4 separate regions of the Homo sapiens genome follow, and all the other regions are linked to region 1. The links come from fine-mapping of genetic effects on gene expression. A gene starts in region 1. Each other region holds a variant in brackets. All regions are shown on one strand. Distances are between the middles of the regions. Region 1 holds the start of RBM47 (RNA binding motif protein 47). Region 2 overlaps RBM47 (RNA binding motif protein 47). Region 3 has its middle 5.6 kb from the start of RBM47-AS1. Region 4 has its middle 49 kb from the start of RBM47.

What was found. PIP is the estimated chance that this variant, and not a neighbour inherited with it, causes the effect. A credible set is the group of variants that fine-mapping cannot tell apart.
Region 2: its variant is the best candidate, but not a certain one, in a credible set for the expression of RBM47 in fibroblasts (GTEx, PIP 0.59).
Region 3: its variant is the best candidate, but not a certain one, in a credible set for the expression of RBM47 in thyroid (GTEx, PIP 0.80).
Region 4: its variant is the best candidate, but not a certain one, in a credible set for the expression of RBM47 in thyroid (GTEx, PIP 0.66).

The regions. Positions count from the first base shown.
Region 1 is chr4:40,627,722-40,632,870 of GRCh38, forward strand. It overlaps RBM47 (RNA binding motif protein 47), which reads right to left and starts at 2,143. Exons shown (of 7, transcript NM_001098634.2): 1 at 1,675-2,143. RefSeq lists enhancers at 1,000-1,876, 1,877-2,754, 1,937-2,006.
Region 2 is chr4:40,578,225-40,583,373 of GRCh38, forward strand. The region is part of intron 1 of RBM47 (RNA binding motif protein 47); the gene reads right to left. Among named protein-coding and RNA genes, the nearest start is that of RBM47, 49 kb to the right of the region's middle. RefSeq lists a silencer at 3,755-3,933. The variant G/GA (reference allele first, on the strand shown) is at 2,250.
Region 3 is chr4:40,417,984-40,423,132 of GRCh38, forward strand. No RefSeq gene overlaps it. Among named protein-coding and RNA genes, the nearest start is that of RBM47-AS1, 5.6 kb to the right of the region's middle. RefSeq lists an enhancer at 602-746 and a cis regulatory region at 667-680. The variant G/A (reference allele first, on the strand shown) is at 2,264.
Region 4 is chr4:40,676,774-40,681,922 of GRCh38, forward strand. No RefSeq gene overlaps it. Among named protein-coding and RNA genes, the nearest start is that of RBM47, 49 kb to the left of the region's middle. The variant A/C (reference allele first, on the strand shown) is at 2,580.

The sequences.
Region 1 (5,149 bases):
TTAGAGCAAGTCTATAGAACACGTGTCCAGAAGCATGTAGTTCCCTTGCTTTCTGTCTTTATTTCATCCTCAGTATCACTACTGCTTTGGGCAGAATTCTTTCAAAATTTAATTTAAAGCAGCACAGTGGGGGAATCAAAAATAAATATGTTGACTATTAAAAATATAGAGATTGGTAAAAAAAATGATGATGATGAATTCTCAATCCTACAAACTTCTGTAAACGCAAAAACCAAGAGGAAGATAATAAATCTTTAATAATTGATTGATATTCAGAATATCTTGATCTAATTAATTTAAAGCATGGCCTACCTAGCCAGGTAAAGGACGGCACAGCTAGGCTTATTTCTTCATTTGACACATACTGAAAGTTAATAATGAAGCTAGGTGCTTGGGAAATTTCTGAGACCCCATCCTTCCAGCATGCAATAATTAAGTCAAAGAGGCCAACAGTGTGTATATCAGAACAAGGTGAAGGGTAAAGCAGACCAGAAAAAAATATTAAAAACCAAACCATCTCCTCCTTTCTTTTTTTCCTTCTGTTTTCCTTTCAGACTGGGTTGATTTTAGTTCCCTCCAAGACTTCAAGTCATTGATCTAACAAAGATCATTGTTTAAATTAATAGCAACACAAACTCCCACAAAGTGATCTCTTCTTATGCTCTAGGTTGAGTACTTTGGTTTATCTAGAGGTTGTGTGTTACGCCGCTGACCACCTTTCACCTTTTAGAATCGGCACCTGCAATTCTCAAATGCTCTGGATCTAATTGCCAACCTTTTGAGCTCAAAACTTCGGCAACTCCTTCATGTTGGGTTGTCAACCCTTTGCTTTCCCTCCCCTGAGAAATTCGTATGACCTTGCCTTAAAACTTTTAAAGAATACATTTTAAAATCTATATTCCTGCTAAAGAAAACAGTGAGTCATTAAAATACCACCAGATAAAAAAAAAAGGTTTGATTTTTAGTTCAGGTCGGTAATGGCCTGTAAGTACCTTGAAGATGGTATCTTCCTATCACTTATGCCTTGGGACAGTACCCAAGAGTGGCTGAACTTTTACCTAATTAAAAAATGAGTCATTTATTTGAAAAATTCCACTTCCATTTATTTTATCTGATTTCTTAAATATCCGGTCAACTGCTAATTTGTCAGATGTCATAATTCGTCAGTCCTACCCTTTTCTACAGGCTGAATTTTTAATTTGAAACAACTACACCTCTACCGAGTGTTACTTTCAGACGTAAATTACTGCAGGAAGACCCCCCTCTGCCTTGGTTAACACTTAAATGAGATGCCTCCTGTCCAGGACGCTTCCTCAGTCTCACTGTAATAATCTGAGTCTAAAGTCACCTGTGCTTCTGGGCGGTCCAATCATGTATTTTCAAGAGTGAAAAAAAAAAATCAGTTTCTTTTATGGGAAAAGATTCATCACTACAGGAAACACGATGGGACTGACTGTATATGATTATCTGCCTTCCCAGAGGTTGACCCTTTTAAAACCGTTTTATAAACCCTTTATTTCCCACTAAATATACCAAGAGACAGAAGATGAGTGATAGCATGAGGGATAAGAGCTAAAGAGAGAAGAATAAGAAAAAAATATACACTTCAAAAATTGGGACCCAAATGTAAGATTAAGGGACAATAGTTAGAAGGACTACCAAAAACCACCTTACCTTTCCTTGTTAAGTTTTTGGAGCCGCCCACTTCAGAAATTAACACCATTCACAGCCCAGGAGCAACTTAACACAGCTAGGAAGTCACCTACAACATCTTCTCGTCCGCCTTCTTTTTAATGTAAAACCAAAATAAGGAGTGTCCAGCGACTCCCCACCGCGCCGCTTAAAGCAACAGAGCGTTTTAGGCTTAACTCCCAGGCTCTGGGAATTCCAGTGGGTCAGAATTGCTTAACCTTGGAGACTTGCAGAGAGAAAGTCTCCAGGAGGACCGCTCCCCAAACCCTGGTTTCTCTCTATCCCAAGCTGCACATTCCACAGTGGAAAGCGGGAGCGGCGACCCGAAGGCAGCGAAGTTCTCTCGGGCTCAGCTCCCGAGGCCGGGAGCGCGCGGCGGTTCCACCCGCAGAGCGGCGCCGCGTCCCGGCTGCGTGGGGCGCTGCGCACGGGAGCGCTCAGCGTCTAGTCTGCGGGCCCTTCCCGGTTCCCTCCCTCTCTCCTCCCGCCGCCCGCCCCCTGCCGAGGCCATCCGCCTCACAGTAGCAAGGTTGTCTCTCGTCTACTCCCTTCCCTTAAACTCACCAAACCAGATTTTTACTCCCAACACCGGCAACTTCCCGTAAATCTGCCCTGAAATTTTATCCTGCTGGCTGAGCCTCCCCTGGCTAAAGGCCAGTGCCACATTCCTGTTGTTTTTTAGGAGCGCAGATACCTTTGCTGAAGGTTCAAAGAAAATCGGCCTTGATGGCAGAGATTGGGGGACTTGACCAGACGGACTTCTCTCCCCGCCCCAAAAGTCACATGCCTTTCAGACACCCAGAAGTGGCACCTGCTCCACCTGGGGGCATCTGTCCGAGTCAGACGCTCGGCCCCCTTCGGGCTGCTCCGAGAAACCCAGCCAGAACCACGTTGGAGAAATTAGGAACCTGCTGCTGAATTTCAAGCCGATCGGAACCGCCCCGCTCCCCTTCTTCCCCCCATAAACAAGTCGCTGGACGAGGTGGGATCTCTGCGACCCCCGCGTGCCCGGGGAGAGCTCCCGGGGCGAGCTCCCGGGGCGTCCTTACCTGGGGCCGAGCATGGCTTGGCCGCGCGCAGGCAGGAGCGTCACGCGGACGGGGCCCTGACCTTTGCCGGGGCCTTCGCAGCAGGGCCTGGGGCCTGGGCGCTGCTCGTTCAGAAGTGGCTCATTTTAGTGCGCTCTGACCTAGAGTTACGGAGGGTTTCTAGAAAGGGAACAAAAAAACACTGCATTTAGAAACAGCAGCCAAGCCCTCGCTTCACCTTGCCTGCTCTCTGGGGAGTTGGCTCGAACCCCCACCCCATCCCAATTCCCAAGAAACCCAGATGTCCGCAATCCGCGCCCCACCCCCTCCGCCTTACCTGTTTATACAAGAGTTAAGGAGCCTCCCGCATTTCAGTGGAGCGCTAAGCCTGTTTGTAGGCGCGGAATGGGCCAACAGGAATCGAATTCTGTGACTAAACAAACTAGAAGAGGAAGCAGGCACCACCAGGAACCTAAAACAGAGTTGTGATTTCGGGTTGCAGTGTCATTCAGCTGAGGGGAAAGAAAAAAATACCGGGCTACTTTAGTGAAAGAATGTTCCAAAAATGGTTCTTTGCTGGTTGAGTTAACACATGCAAAGAGCTTAGAACGGTGCCTAGCACACAGTGTTAGCTGCCGTTATTGTTGTTGTTATTCTTCTTATTATTATTTACATTATGGCTTTTTTCTGAAGAAGAGTGTGTGGTCAGAGTTAGACATGGGCTGTAGCACCAGCATTGCCACTCACCAGCTGTGAGGCCATGAGCAAGATATTTAATCTCTCCCAGCCTCAGTTTCTGGAAGATTCTAACGATGGGATTTTTACAAACAGTTTATATTCATTGCTGACAGTCTTGAATACAATGGGAAATAAAGTCCCTGTAAAGGGTAGCCAACTGAATTTCATCTCACTTAAAAGTTACAAGATTGACAACAGAAATGGAGATAAATTTGCCTGCATTCCATGAAGCTCACTAACGGGAAGGAAATTCAGGGCCCAGCAATCACCCATCTGCTATGCTTAATTCTCATTTGTATTTTGGCACTTGACCTGGTGTCTTACCCTGGGATAGTTACTTATCCCAGACTGGGCCGGACAAATAATGACCCTTGCCGTTTGAAAAGCAGTATGAAAGAGAGGGAAATGATTTTGAAACTCCTCATAAATATTAAAAAGTGATTATTGAAGGCTAAAATGTTATCAGTGCCTCCACCCTTTATCCTCCATTTAACTTCACATTTAAAGAAAGAAATCATAATCCCTTTCCATTAGTGAGGCCCTTTCTACTTTATGGAGCACTTTCACCCTTCTTACTTTATGTGATCCTTACAAAATGATCCTATGAGCTATTTTGTCCCCATTTTGCAGATGAAGACACTGAGATCACACAGGTTAAGTGTAAGTCCAAGGTGGTGAGGCCAGGACTGGTTCTCAGTTCTAGTTAATTTTTTTTTAAGTTGAAAAATCAAACTGGATTTATTAAAATATATATAAATAACCCTCATTTTTCTTTATTTCATCAGTATTGGAAAGTTAAGTGAAAATTAATTAAAAAGTAGTAGTCCTAAGAGAGAGAAACAAAGGCTGAAGGGGTATCAAGAAAACCATAAATTTAAAAAGCAGCATTTGCCACCTTTGGGAAAAATGATTCCTTAAAACCAGCAAAGCATTCTGGAACATTTTAAATCCTTCTGATCTTTTATCTTCTCATGAGGCAAAATTTAACCCAGACAAATTCAACATTTCCTGTGTTTTAGGTTCATTCTTTGTCGATACCAGCCAGCATGTACTGTGAACAGCAGGCAGTGGGAACTCTCTTAGCTAAGTTCCCTCACCAGACCTAAGGGTTGATGCTGCCAGGCACAAACAACGGCTCCACCCCCTTAAGACAACTAAAAAACCCAGCTCCATATTAGCCTGAAATTTTCTTTTCTTTTCCAGAAGTATCTGGATTATGGCCTCAAAAAAGGCTCGCTGTCACAGACTGTCTGAGCTGAAGGATTCTAGAGGGGACATTCTCGCTGGGCACGGTGGCTCACGCCTGTAATCCCCACACTTTGGGAGGTCGAGGCAGGCAGATAACCTGAGGTCAGGAGTTCCAGATGAGCCTGGCCAACGTGGCGAAACCCCGTCTCTACTAAAAATACAAAAATTGGCTGGGCATGGTGGCAGGCACCTGTAATTCTAGCCACTCGGGAGGCTGAGGCGGGAGAATGGCTTGAACCCGGGAGGTGAAGTTTGCAGGGAGCCGAGATCGCGCCACTGCACTCCGGCCTGGGCGAAAGAGCAAGACTCCGTCTCAAAAAAAAAAATAAACACATAAATAAATTTAAAAAATGATAAAAATAAAAGAAATTTGAAAGTGTGGAGGTCAGTGACTCCAGGTGAACTGGAACTGGAGTCAGGGAAAACTCCTGCTTGAGGAGGCT
Region 2 (5,149 bases), 49 kb before region 1:
TAAAGTAATCTGATGTTATTTTTCTGTTGTTCTGTCTCCTGTTGTCCCATTCCTTACAAAAAAAGTATCTTTGAAACAATTAATATACTTTAAGTTCTTTCCTTCTACTTTATAAAGCCAAGCTCTTCTGCTCGGCTGACTGGAACCCTTTTCCTATAATATGGAAGGAAGTGTTGCCCGATTCTAGAAACTCAAATAAAAGCAATTGAGAACTTTAAACTAAATTTGTTGCAATTTTGTCTTTTGACACATAGGATTTTCCTCCTGACACTTATAGACAATTGTAGAATAAATGGCCTCCCTCTGCCTCCATTTTCTACTTCCATTCATTTTCAGTGTTCTTAGCTTTTTCTTTCTACATGCCCACCACTTAGATTTCATTGTTCTTCCATCTGAAAGCTTTGCTTATGGCCTTTTCTATCATTTTCTCTTCTACCTTAACTTCTAGAGTTATTATGTTACCTAGGACAAGAGATATGACTTCTCACTGCCTCAGTTCCTCATCTGTAAATGGTGCTGTGTAGCAGGGCCTGCTGTAAGGGCTAAGGGGTAACGCACACAAAGTGCTTGGCACAATGCTACACACAGTAGGTGCTCAAAATGTGATAGCAAGCTGGGCACGATGGCTCACGCCTGTAATTCCAGCACTTTGGGAGGCCAGGGAGGGCAGATCACTTGAGGTCAGGAGTTCAAGACCAGCCTGGGCAATATGGTGAAACCCCATCTCCACTAAAATAACAAAAAATTAGCCAGACATGGTGGCGTGCACTTGTACTCCCAGCTACTCAGGAGGCTGAGGCAGAAGAATCACTTGAACCTGGGAGGCGGAGGCTACAGTGAGCCAAGATCATGCCACTGCACTCCAGCCTGGGCAACAGAGCGAGACTCTATCTTAAATTAAAAAAAAAAAAAATGCAGCCAGGCACGGTGGCTCACGCTTGTAATCCCAGCACTTTGGGAGGCCAAGACTGGCGGATCACGAGGTCAGGAGACTGAGACCATCCTGGCTAACACACTGAAACCCCATCTCTACTAAAAATACAAAAAATTAGCTGGGCATGGTGGCACGCGCCTGTAGTCCCAGCTACTCAGGAGGCTGAGGCAGGAGAACCACTTGAACCCGGGAGGTGGAGGTTGTAGTGAGTCGAGATCATGCCACTATACTCCAGCCTGGGTGACAGAGCGAGACCCTGTCTCAGAAAAAAAAAAAAAAAAAATGCAATAGCAAAGAAACAAATTGGATGGGAATAACTAGTTCAGATTCTCTAGGTAAAACTCTATAACTTTAAGGGTAATTATTTAAAAGTTATTAAAATTATAAAAAATAAGATCTGACTTAAGTGGGAACTAGATTACCTATTTTAGGGAGATGATATGAAGAAAATTTACCCATCTTATGGAGGTGGTTCAAATCAGAGCACTTCTCCATACACGAGTCAATCTACATTCCCAAGAAGCTCTGAAGCATTTTTCTCTGTGGGTCTTTGCTGGAGTTATTACATTGAGAAAGTAAACTTTAGGGTAATTTTTTTTTTTTTTTTGAGACTAGGTCTCACTCTGTCACCCAGGCTGGACTGCAGTGGCACAATCACAGCTCACTGCAACCTCTGCCTCCCTGGCTCAAGGGATCCTCCTACCTCAGTCTCCCATGTAGAGGTGACCACAGGTGCACACTACCATGCCTGTCTATTTTTTTAAATTATTTTTTATTTTTGTAGAGACAGGGTCTCGCCTTGTTGCCCAGGCTGGTCTTGAACTCCTGGGCTCAAGGGATCTTCCTGCCTTGACCTCCCAAAGTGCTGGGATTACAGGAGTGAGCCACCGCTTCCGGCCTACTTTTAGAGGATTTATAAATTCGAATTGGTCTAAGTTCCAACATGCCAAATATCCTGGACCTCTCACCAGTAAAAAATTTTCCTTCAGTTGAACTTGGTTTAGTTAGCAAAGTCAAATGAGTCCACTTCATGGATATTTTCTAAATGTGTTTCCTCATACTTTTTTTTTTTTAACTCTTAGAATCCAAGTGACTCATCTGTGTGCTTGAATCCTTTCCACTGTCTCATCTCCCTCATCCAAGTTTCTAGTACCTTCTCTTTGTTGTGAAGGATAATCAAACTGAACAACAAAAAGTTTACTCTCCTCATTTGGAACCTAAAAACTCTCTTCTTCCTGGGTCTGAGGGCTCCAAGAATCCTTGAATCAGTTCTCAGATCATTGTGGACACCAGATCAGGAACCTCAGGCACGTGG[G/GA]AAGGCCAGATAATTAGGAGGGATGCTGAAGAGAAAGCCCGATGACCACAGCACGGTGATGGTTTAAAGGCCTTGAAATTTGGTTACCATCATTCCCCAACCCACCAACCGCCCATGGGCTGCATTCACCAGCACGCACTGGCAGCCGCAGCCACCCGTTCTCTTTCCTTGCATTGCTGAGCAAGTTTCCCATATCATTCAGTTAGGCTCAGCTCTCACACATATTGAGGAATGATCCCTACCACTGCTCGCACATGAATGGGAAAGGATGTACAATACATAAAGGCAGAGACAGGAGAATTTCAGACAGTGGTAAAAGTTGTGAGGTAAATAAAGCAGAGGAATGGGACAGAGATTAACAGAGATTGGTGAGAGAGAGAAGGCCACTCTGATATTTGTGCTGAGAGTTGAACAAAGAGACAGGGAGCCTAGCAAGGATCTAGGGAAAGAGCAATCTAGGCACAAACAAGGGCAAACGCCCCATGGCGGGAACAGGTTTGTTCATTTTGTTTTCGCTTTAATTCCAGGAACAAGAATCTGTGGCTGGAATCTGGTAATGGAGGCAGAGGTGGGAGCACAGAGGTTGGGAGGTGGCCAGAGGTCATGAGCTGAAAAACTCATGAGCCATAGGAGGGAGCTTGGGTTTTAGTCTAAAGAAAAGGAGAAAGCCGGGCACGGTGGCTCAGGCCTATAATCCCAGTACTTTGGGAGGCCGAGATGGGAAGGTTGCTTGAGTCCAGGAGTTCGAGACCAGCCTGGACAATATAGTGAGACCTCATCTCTACAAAACATTTAAAAATTAGCTGAGCATGGTGACATGCGCCTGTAGTCCCAGCTACTCGAGAGGCTGAGGTGGGAAGATCCCTTGAGTCCGGGAAGCAGCGGTTGCAGTGAGCCGAGCTCACACCACTGCTTCCAGCCTGGGTGACAGAGCGAGAACTTGTCTCAAAAAAAAAGTAATAATAAATAAATAAATAAATAAATAAATAAATAAAAGGAGAGGTCATTGGAGAGTGTTAAGCTTGCAGGGGGACTCTGGGGAAGATGAAGAATGAGAAAGCATCTCATAGAGATGGTTTGTTTGGTTTCTTGGAGGAAGACTTCTTCCAGGTTGATACAATCTACTTGTGAGTGGATGAGAAGGTGGGGGTGGTGGGGGAAGAGGTGAGATTAAATTATCTCTTCTTCAGAAGACAGCTCAGAAACCACAGACAGAAAATGCCTTAAAAGATAACCAGAGAGCCTTCAGGGTGTGTGTGAAGAGAGGCTGCAGCCCAGGTGTATGGCATCAGTCCTGCAAGAGGGAAAAGAAGTGAAAGGGAGCTTCAGCAGCTCCCACAGTCACAGAGCTCGGGAGCCCAGCTGTCTCCTGAACGCCAGCCCCAGGAGCAACCAGACCTCCCTCCTCCACTCTGTGAGCAGCGCCTCAAGCTCACCATATCCAATGCTGACCTCATTATCTCCCCCGAACCCGCTTCCCCTCCTCTGCACCCATCTTAGCAAGTGGATCGCCATCCCCCAGGTCCCTACACCAGAATCCCGGTTGGCGCCTCTCACTCCTGCTCCTACACTCCCTTCACCCAGTCAGTCACTGAGGCTTACTGAGTCCACTCCCAGAACCCATCTCGAATCTTCATGTCTCATCTCCCTCTTACTATCCCTGCAGCCTATGTCTTAGTTCAAGTTCTTCACTCAGACCCTCACTATAGCTTACTAACAGGTGCCATTCCTAACTCTAGTCCTTGTTGCCAAACTAATCTTTCCAAAACTAAGATCTGGGCCAGGCATAGTGGCTCACGCCTGTAATCCCAGCACTTTGGGAGGCCAAGGCAGGAGGATCACCTGAGGTCAGGAGTTCAAGACCAGCCTGGTCAACATGGTAAAACCCCGACTCTACCAAAAATACAAAAATTAGCCAGGTGTGGTGGTGCGTGCCTGTAATCCCAGCTACTTGGGACGCTGAGGCAGGAGAATCGCTTCAACCCAGGAGGTGGAGGGTGCAGTGAGCCGAGATTATGCCACTGTACTCCAGCCTGGGCAACAGAGCAAGACTCCATCTCAAAACAAACAAACAAACAATAAAAACAAAAACTAGGATCTGATGACATCACTCACTACCAATAGTCAGCAAAGCATTCCAGGATCTGTTCCCTGCCTCACTCCAACTCCATCCTTCCGTACTATGACCCCATATGCCATACAAACTTGTCACGTTTCCTGAACACATTCTTCTGGCTCCGGGCTGTTTCATGTGTTGCACTGAGCCCTCTACCTGTTTCTTCTTCAACCTTATACCCTACTCTCAACGCCTAGTCAGTCATCAAAACCATTCAATTGTCACCTCCTCTACAAAGTCTAGTCACCACCCTGGTAGAATCCATGTCTCATTACCACCCTTGCCCATGCTGTACTCTCTTCCAACTCTATCAGAGCAACTGTAACATTGCATTGCCCTTATTTATAAACTCTTTCTGCTAGTGAATAAGCACCTCGAAGGCAGCTTAGCACATAGCAAGTGCTCAATACACACTCAAAAATCAAACTAGTAGAGTAAGTGGAATGTGCGAAGTACAGAAGAGACAGGGAAAAGGAGCTTCAAGGTTATGGGTTAATTGCAGAATGGGAATAAAGAACAAGAAAGAGCAAAGGGAGACAAAAGCAAGGTCAGGCCGGCCAAGCACAGTGGCTCACGCCTGTAATTCCAGCATTTACTGGGAGGCTGAGGTGGGCAGATCACTTGAGTCCGAGAGTTCAAAACCAGCCTCCGTCTCTACTAAAAATACAAAAAAAATTAGCTGGGCATGGTGGTGCACACCTGTAATCCCAGCTACTTGGGAGGCTGAGGCACAAGAATCACTTGAACCTGAGAGGTGGAGGTTGCAGTGAGCCGAGATCACGCC
Region 3 (5,149 bases), 210 kb before region 1:
CTTGACCATTGGCATATATGGTAAGTTACTGTCAGCCATTATTCTTATCTCCTGCTGAATGATCATCATCTAAGACTTTAACATTATTCCCAAACACAAGGAAAATGAGGAACCAAAAAAAGACATGCTCGCCGAAGGCAGGCTTGACTGAGCACTCAGTGGCACGGCTGTTTGCACTAAAGCGTTGGGTAATTTCTAAGTAGATTATTTTGGCTGTTGTCTCTTATGCACAAGAGATTCCCTCTATAAATGCTAGAGCACATTTAGAATCAGTTGCATTTCCAGAATTTCTCTCCTTAGGGGAGTGTCTTATTTGGAAAGGGGACATTAGGGGTTTATTGGGAAGCTGAGTCTGCATAGTACTCTATATAAGATTGAGAAAGGGTCAAATGGCCAAATTTGAATGGGGGTGGAGGTGTGAGGGTGGTGAGGTCGACGGAAGTAAAACTATCTCATGGTGCTGTCAGTTTGGAATAAAGGTCGTGAAAAAGGAGCGGAAAAATCCCAGCAAAACCAAACTGGCATGGCCCAGTGTTATCACAATACCATTAAGTGCAAATGTTTTGACCCAGCACACCCCCAGCAAGGTCATCTCAGAAAAAACTGGGCTTCAGTGACATCTCTTAGCTGCCTTAGAATGACTAAGGTTATTTAAACCTCATGGTTGGTTAATCATTAATGAAGATTTTTGACAAACAAAGTAGAACGAGCCAAGAAAGAAGGGTGGCTAAAAATTAGCCTAGGAAAGGTCATATTTCTTGCATATGCAGGGATTAGTGTTGCTTTTGTTTCTGGTAACTGTGCAGAATGGAGTTTCAAGGAAATATGATCCTGTTGGGGAAGCCAATGTGTCTCTGAAGATTTTACTTAGGATTCTCCTCCACTGTATTAGTCCATTCTCATGCTACTAATAGAGACATATGCGTGACTGGGTAATTTATAAAGGAAAGAGATTCAATGGACTCACAGCTCCATATGGCCAGGGAGGCCTCACAATCATGGCAGAAGGTGAAGGAGGAGCAAAGGCATGTCTTACATGGCAGCAGGCAGGGCAGCATGTGCAGGGGAACTGCCTTTTATAAAACCATCAGATCTCATGAGACTTACTATTGTGAGAACAGCACGGGAAAAACCTGCCCCCATGATTCAATTACCTCCCACCAGGTCCCTCCCATGACACATAGGGATTATGGGAGCTACAATTCAAGACGAGATTTGGGTGGGGACACAGCCAAACCATATCATCCACCCTCAGTCATCTGGAGGACTATAGGCCTCCATCACCTTTGCTGAGAAGCCTGCATTCCTGTCCCATGGGGGGTTTACGTAGGAACAGTGGGGACACCCACATGCAGCTGCTGTATGACCCAAGAGGAAAGGGTGAAGGTCCCAGAGGCTGGAACCTGGACCTGCACAAGAAACAGGTGGGCAGCCCTAAAAGCTTTGATTGCTGCTATAAACTCCTGGACAAGCTCAGAGTTGGGAGGCATCCCCCCCTGGGGCCAGGAAGGCAGCAGGAAGGGAGTTTTTCACTAGGGGCAGCTCTAGCTTCAGCAGTGTAGATAAACGCAGGGCTCCACCATTTCCTGAAAGTCCTAAGAAGGAATGAATGATTGAGGGTTCTTTCTCTGTGATTACTGGCTCCCCTAGCTTCCTTGTCATAGGGACCAAATCTCTTCCTCCCACAGTTAACACAGGGCCATGAACCCTATTTAATGTTGAACAGTGCAAAGGTTGGATTTCTTCACACTTTCTCCTCCTTTAAGGCAGCCACCCTGAACTGATTTCATGGACTTGATGATACCGTGTTCTTTCCTCCGGGCCCAGGCATTTCCCGATCCCTTTTCCCCCTACTCATCTGCCTAACTCCTATTCATCTTGTAGATCTCTGGCTCGAGCCTGGGTGTGTGCCCCTTCCATAAAACAGTCTTATCATGCCTGGGAGTTTCCAGAAGGCAGAGGGTCAATTTTGTTGATTTATTTCTCTGGTGAATCCTGCATAGTTGGTACTCCAGCAATGAATGTTTATGGAATAAACAGGTGAATAAAAGAATAAAAAATTTCAGTGAATGAAAGAGTTAAAAAAATCATAAAAGGATTTAAAATGGAAAGGCTTGATAGAATTAACAAAGAGGAATGCAGTCACACTAGAGTTTAAAAAGGAGATGGGAAAGGAAATAACTGTCTATAACTCGTCTCATTTTTTTTTTTTTTTTTTGAGATGGAGTCTCCTTCTGTCACCCAGGCTGGAGTGCGGTGGCAC[G/A]ATCTCAGCTCACAGCAACCCCTGCCTCCTGGGTTCAAGTGATTCTCCTGCCCCAGCCTCCTGAGTAGCTGGGATTACAGGCTCACACCACCATGCCCAGCTAATTTTTTGTATTTTTAGTAGAGACGGGGTTTCACCATGATGGCCAAGCTGGTTTTGAATTCCTGACCTCAAATGATCCACCAGCCTCAGCCTCCCAAAGTGCTAGGATTACAGGCGTGAGCCACCACGCCTGGCCAACTCATCTCATTTTTATAATAACCTTATGAGGTCAGGATTATTATCCCTATTTTACCAGTTAAGAAACTGGTACTGAGAGGTAAGGCATCTTCTTCAAAGTCTCATGACTTGCAAGTAGCAAAGCTGGGGTTTCACCCCTAGGCATTCTGACCACAAACCCAGCCTATTTTAGTAGGCCATGGCACTTGCTCATACAGGTTAGCATTTGGGTAATCACATTTGTCCCCTAAATTTATTGGCATGAAGAGTTAGAAACAGGAATGCTGGGTACTAGTAAGTGAAAAGAGGAGACAGGAGAAAAGGCTGTACCCAGTCCAATAGCTTAGACCTTGGAATTGATGTAAAACATTTTGTGGATGTCCCCTGAGTCTCTTTCTATATTTAAACCTAATCCTCCCTTTGACCTTGGGGGTTCAGAAATGGTGAATGTGTCAAGGAAAAGGTAGGATAAGGTCAGAACATCTGTATCATCCTACCCAGTAGCTGAAGATGGATTTTGTTTTTAGGGTCATGGTGTCAAAACGTTATTTCATCTAAACAGCCATGCCAAAATGTCACACTTCCTATGACTTAAAAAATCAAATCCAAGGCCGGGCGCGGTGGCTCACGCCTGTAATCCCAGCACTTTGGGAGGCTGAGGTGGGCAGATCACGAGGTCAGGAGATCGAGACCATCTTTGCTAACATGGAGAAACCCCGTCCCTACTAAAAATAGAAAAAGTTAGCCGGACGTGGTGACGGGCACTTGTAGTCCCAGCTACTCCGGAGGCTGAGGCAGGAGAATGGTGTGAACCCAGGAGGCGGAGCTTGCAGTGAGCTGAGATCGCGCCACTGCACTCCAGCCTGGGCTACAGAGCCAGACTCCGTCTCAAAAAAAAAAATAAAATAAAAATCAAATCCAAACAAAACAAAACAAAAAACTCAAATACAAAGCCTCAGTGCCCAGAAGGCTTTATAATAAAGAAATCATATAAAAATTGAATATACAAGAAAAATCAGGTTATGTTTTCTAACTCTTCTTTCAATTAAGTTCTTTGCATGTTGTCATGACAGACATTTTTGGAATCAAAAAAATGGGGCATTTAGAACCTGGGACAAGGAGTCTTGAGTGTAGACTTTTTTTTTTTTTTTTTTTTTTTTTTAAGACAAGGTCTCACTCTGTCACCCAGGCTGGAGTGCAGTGGCATGATATTGGCTCACTGCAACCACTGCCCTCCTGGGTTCAACTGATTCTCCTGCCTCAGCCTCCTGAGTAGCTGGGACTACAGGTGCCACCACCATGCCCAGCTAATTTTTATATTTTTGGTAGAGATGGGGTTTCACCATGTTGGTCTTGAACTCCTGACCTCAAGTGATCCACCTGCCTTGGCCTCTTAAAATGCTGGGATTACAGGCGGCAGCCACTGCGCTTGGCCTTGAGTATAGATTTGAGTCCTATTACCAGCTGTGTGATCTTGACCAGTCACATATCTTTATCTGTCCTGCCTGTTTCGCTGAGTTCTTGACAGGTCCATCTGAGGTTATGGAAGCCTAACAGCCCAGTGAATCACATGATCATAGTCATTCTCCTCATGTGACACGCTATTGGCCTCCTCATTTTGATTGTTAATTCTTTTTCTAAAGAGATCAGTCTAACCTGAATGTGATCCTGCAACTTGAAGACCTTTTGTACTTATTTGCTAGAACAAGAAGATCAGCAGCTCTTGTTGCTCCTAAAAACACTGCCTAATAAGCTGTCATCTTGGGAAGTTTCCCAGTCTGTTCAGCCTCTAAAAAGGCCTTTATCCATTTAAGAGGAAGCAGGAAGTTAGAATTCCAAGAAATGCAGGTTGGGAGGCCACAGTCCAGGTTCAAATCTAAGAAGGTAAAATTCTTAATCACTGGCAAATCCAAGTGGAACTTTATTCTATTGACAATCCACCACCTTCCCTCCTGTCATCTGATTGGCTTTGATGATAGATACTGTCTGAAGTTAGTGATGATCTCTAGAGAAAAGGAAAGTGTCCTGTTAACCTTGCTATGCACGGTGAAAAGGAGAAACGAGAAGGTTTTGGTTTCAAATGCAATGACCAACATCAAGGTCATCCCAGCACTTTCATGAGACCATCAGAAAACTCAATGTACATCAACTCTCTCCATTTAAAATTCTGCGTGTAAAGCCTTTGGGATTATAAATAAACTTTGGCACTGAGGGTGGTGACAGGCTTTGTCACATCCTATTCCAATCCAGATTTGAGTATTATTTGAGTGTTCAATCTCCTACCACTTGAGCCAAAGTTTGAGGATACTCATAATTCACAATTCAGCTATGTAACCCATCTTTTTTTTTTTTAAGATGGAGTTTTGCTGTTGTTGCCCAGGCTGGAGTGCAAAGGCATGATCTCGACTCACTGTAACCTCCGCCTCCTGGGTTCAAGGAATTCTCCTACCTCAGCCTCCCACGTAGCTGGGACTACAGGCACCCACCACTATGCCTGGCTAATTTTGTTTGTATTTTTAGTAGAGATGAGGTTTCACCATGTTGGCCAGATGGTCTCGAACTCCTGACCTCAGGTGATCTGTCCGCCTTGGCCTCCCAAAGCGCTGGGATTAGAGGAGTGAGCCACCGCACCTGGCCGATGTAACCCATCTTCAATGGTAGTCCCAA
Region 4 (5,149 bases), 49 kb after region 1:
TAATATTTTCCTTTATTTTGAACATATTTACATGTGTTCCTTTAATTCTTTAAATATCTTTATTTTTAATTTTTTTTTTGAAATAGAGATGAGGTTTCGCTATGTTGCCCAGGCTGGTCTCAAACTCCTGGACTCAAGCAATCTGCCAGCCTCGGCCTCTTAAACTGCTGGGATTACAGGCATGAGCCACTATGCCTGGTCTTTTTTTCCTTTAGAGACAAGATCTCCTCTGTCACTCAGGCTGGAGTGCAGTGGCACGATCATAGCTCGCTGCAGCTTTAAACTTCTGGGCTCAAGCGATCCTCCCTCCTCAGCTTCCTGAGTAGCTAGGACAATAGGCACAAGCCACCATACCCAGCTAATTTTTACTTTTCTTTTCTTTTCTTTTCTTTTTTTTGAGACGAGAGCTCACTCTTGTCACCCAGGCTGGAGCGCAGTGGCGCGATCTCGGCTCACTACAACCTCCAACTCGCTGATTCAAGTGATTCTCCTGCCTCAGCCTCCTGAGTAGCTAGGATTACAGGTGCGCACCACCATGCCCAGCTAATTTTTGTATTTTTGGTAGAGATAGGGTTTCACCATATCGGCCAGGATGGTCTCGATCGCTTGATCTTGTGATCTGCCCGCCTCAGTCTTTCAAAGTGCTGGGATTACAGGCGTGAGCCACTGCGCCTAGCCTTTACTTTTGTTTTTTTAGTAGAGACAGGGTATTATTATTATTATTATTATTATTATTATTATTATTTTACTTTATTTATTTATTTTTTTTGAGACAATCTTGCTCTGTCACCAGGCTGGAGTGTAGCGGCGTGATCTCAGCTCATGCAACTTCCACCTCCCAGGTTCAATCAATTCTCCTGCCTCAGGCTCCCGAGTAGCTGGGACTATAGGCGCCTGCCACCATGCCCAGCTAATTTTTGTGTTTTTAGTAGAGAGGGGGTTTCACCATGTTGGCCAGGCTGGTCTCGAACTCCTGACCTCAAGTGATCTGCCCACCTCGGCCTCCCAACGTGCTGGGATTACAGGCGTGAGCTACTGCGCCCGGCCACGAGACAGGGTAGTATTATATTTCCCAGGCTTGAATGTCTTTATTTTTACTTTAAAAGATTAATTTTTTTTTTTTTTTTTTGAGACAGAGTCTCACTCTGTTGCCTAGGCTAGAATGCATGGTGCAATCTTGGTTCACTGCAGCCTTGACCTCCTGGGCTCAATCAAACCTCCTGCCTCAGCCACAGGCTGGAATCACAGGCCTGCACCACCATACTCGGCTATTTTTTTTCAGTTTTTCATAGAGACAGGGTCTCACTTTGTTGTCCAGGCTGGTCTCGAACTCCTGGGCTCAAGTGTTTCTCCTGCCTTGGCCTCCCAAAGTGCTGGGATTATAGGGATGAGCCACCTCACCTGGACAAATATCTTTATAAATACTGCTTAAATGTCTTCGTCTACTACATCTAATATCTGCGTAGTCTCAGGATCAGGTCAATTTCTTTGACTACTTTTGTTTTTCTTTATTTTCTTTCTTCCTTCTTCTTTTTTTCCTTTTTTTTTTTTTGCATGTCTAGTAATGTTTTATGGTAATACTGGACACTACAGCTAATACGTTGTAGAAATTTTGGATTCTGTTATCTTTATTTTTGTTCCAATAGGCAGGTCAGTTATTTCCTGGTCACTTTGAGCTTGCATACGAGTTTTTTGTTTGTTTTGCTTTTAACTTCGTTAGGGTAGATCTTTGGAAATTTCAAGATATTTTTCCAACCTTCGAGCTCTGTTTCCCTTGTGGATTTTGTCAAGGCGTAGTTTTAGGCTTTGTTAGGGCATGTCTAGTGTGGGCCTTCCTCTAGGACAGTCGCCTCAAATTTAGTTTGTATCTGAATCATCTGAAGAGCTATTGTTAGAACATAAATTTCTGGGCTTCTTCTCCTGAGTTTCTGATTCAGTAGGTCTGAAGTGGGGCCCTTGAATTTGCATTTCCAACAGTAACGTCTAACAAATTTCCAGGTTATGTTGATGCTGCTGGTCAGGGGACAGCAATTTAAGAAATATTGCTGTAGACCATGATCCTTACTTTCATTTATTTATTTTTTTAAGACAGGGCCTCACTCTGTCATCACCCAGGCTGGAGTGCCGTGGTGTGATCAGGGATCACTGCAGCCTCAATTTCCCAGGCTCAAGCAATCCTCCTGCCTCAGCCTCCTGAGTAGCTGGGACTACAGGCACATGCCACCACACCTGGCTACTTGTAGTTTTTGTAGAGATGGGGTTTCACCATGTTGCCCAGGCTGGTCTCAAACTCCTGAGCTGAAGCTCAAGAGCTCAAGTTCAAGCTTGAGCCCGCCTCGGCCTCCCGAAGTGCTGGAGTTACAGGCGCGAGACACCCGCCCGGCCGTGGTCCTTACTTTTAAGACGTGAACTCTTCGATGTCCCAGCTGGATGCCTGGAGTGTCATTAACAAAGTGTTAGAGTGCTTTCCCACTCAGGCTGAGCCATAACTAATGCCCGCCCCCTCCGTTGCTGCTTGAACTCAATCTCTGCTCAGCTTCTTCCACCGCACAGAAGCTGGTACCTGGTCATCCTTGGGT[A/C]GTCTCACCTTTCAAATGTGCAACACAGCTCTTAACCAAGTGCTCAGAGGACACCCCCACGAGGATTTTTTGGAGTCCTTCCTCTGCAAAGCTCCTGTCTCCAGTGTTCTAACCAGCAGATTCCAGCTGCTCAGCTGCCCGAAACTCTGTACTCTGCCTCCTCAGCTTAGTTAAGTTCTCCTTTTCCTACTTGGATGCCAGGAAATTGCCCCCCAGGTAAAGAGCCAGAATGATTCTGGGGCTTAAAAAAGATGAGTTTCTCGGCCGGACGCGGTGGCTCATGCCTGTAATCCCAGCACTTTGGGAGGCTGAGGTGGGCGGATCATGAGGTCAGGAGATTGAGACCATCCTGGCTAACACGGTGAAACCCTGTCTGTACTAAAAATACAAAAAATTAGCCAGGCATGGTGGCAGGCGCCTGTAATCCCAGCTACTCAGGAGGCTGAGGCAGGAAAATCGCTTGAATCCAGGAGGTGGATGTTGCATGAGCTGAGATTGCGCCACTGCACTCCAGTCTGGGCGACAGAGCAAGACTCTGTCTCAAAAAACAAACAAACAAACAAACAAACAAAATGATGAGTTTCTTTTCCCTCAGGGACCAGAGACTTGTACTCTCTCCTGGCCAATTCCTGAAACAGTTGACTAATACTTGGTTTTTTTTGTTTGTTTTGTTTTGTTTTTGAGATGGGGTCTCGCTCTGTCACTCAGGCTGAAGTGCAATGGCACAATCACAGCTCACTGCAGCCTTGAACTCCTGGGGTCAAGCAATCCTCCCACCTCAGCTCCCAAGTAGCTGGGACCACAGGATGCGCAACAGGGTCTCGCTATGTTGACCATGCTAGTCTTAAACTCCTGGGCTTGCCGGGTGCGGTGGCTCATGCCTGTAATCCCAGCACTTTGGGAGGCTGAGGTGGGTGGATCAACTGAGGTCAGGAGTTCAAGACCAGCCTCAACATGGAGAAACCCCGTCTCTACTAAAAATACAAAATTAGCCCGGCGTGGTGGTGCATGCCTGTAATCTCAGCTACTCGGGAGGCTGAGGCAGAATTGCTTGAACCTGGGAGGCAGAGGTTGCGGTGAGCCAAGATGATTGCACCATTGCACTCCAGCCTGGGCAACAAGAGCGAGACTCGGTCTCAAAAAAAAAACACACACACAAAAACAAAAACAACTGCTGGGTTCAAACAATCTGCCCACCTAGGCTCCCAAAGTGTTGGGATTACAGGTGTGTGTGTGTGTGTGTGTGTGTGTGTGTGTGTGTGTGTGTTTTAATGGTGGGATGGCTGGTCTTATACCAATTACTACCCCATTATAGCCAAGAGTGGAAGTTCTGGCTTTAGACCTTTGAATTTAAGGAAACTTGGACCATCCAGACAAAGGAGTCTACAAAGAAAAAAGCCTAGAGATAAAGGTTTGGAAGGCATCAGGGCACAACGGTTTGGAAGACCAAGGGCAGAAATCACATAGGAAAGTTATACAAAATGAGAAGAGGGGAGGATCAAAGACAGAATCTTGGGGGAACCACCAGTTTTTCATGGATGAGTGGAAGAAGGCTGGCAAAAGAAACAGAAGGACTGCTCCAACAGTCAAGAGAAGAACCAAATGTTCCAGAAGTCAATGGAGAAGAGGTTTTTAAATTTTTTTTGAATTTTTACTGTTTTCCTCCCCTGTGCTAAAAAAATAGCTTTAAAAATTTTCAAGCAACCTTATGACAACATGCTATTATCAGTCCCATTTTATAGATGGAGATAAAGATGATGAAACTCAAAGGTTAAGTAACTTGCTCAAGGTCAATGGAGCTGCAAAGGGCAGAGCTAGGACTTGGATCCAGGCATTCTGGCTCCAATACATCACAATGTACTGCTTCACTCCAAAATAAGACAAGATGGCAAATGCAGCAAGGCTGTCCATGAAGCTGAGGATAGAAAAGTGCTTACTGGGGCCAGACGCAGTGGCTCACACCTGAATCTTAGCACTTTGGGAGGCTAAGGTGGGTGGATCACCTGAGGTCAGGAGTTCGAAACCAGCCTGGCCAACATGGCAAAACCCTGACTTTACTAAAAATACAAAAATTAGCCGGGCTTGGTGGCTCATGCCTGTAGTCCCAGCTACCTGGGAGGCTGAGGCAGGAGAATAGCTTGAACCTGGGAGGCAGAGGTTGCAGTGAGCTGAGATGGCACCACTGCACTCCACCCTGGGTGACAGCGAGACTCCATCTCAAAAAAAAAAGAAAGAAAAGAAAAAAGAAAAGTGTCCATTGGATTAGGCAAAAGGGCCACTGGTAAGCTCAGAAAGAACTCACAGTAATAAACAATAGGTGCTAATTAACTGTTCAACAGGATTGGTTCCTGGCCTAACTGGTCTTTGGGGCCAGCAGTGTGCCATACACATGGCACCTCTCAGCCCTGGCTTGCATTGTCCTCGTTGGAAACCTATTCCAGGTTTACGCTCTGAAAAAGAGCAGGCACATTCCCTAATGCCTTCAGGGAAAACAAGACCCAGCGCTCCAGCTTCCTGAAGTGTATAAGAGAAGTGTGACGTGCCTGTTTATAACCCAGCAACTATACTCA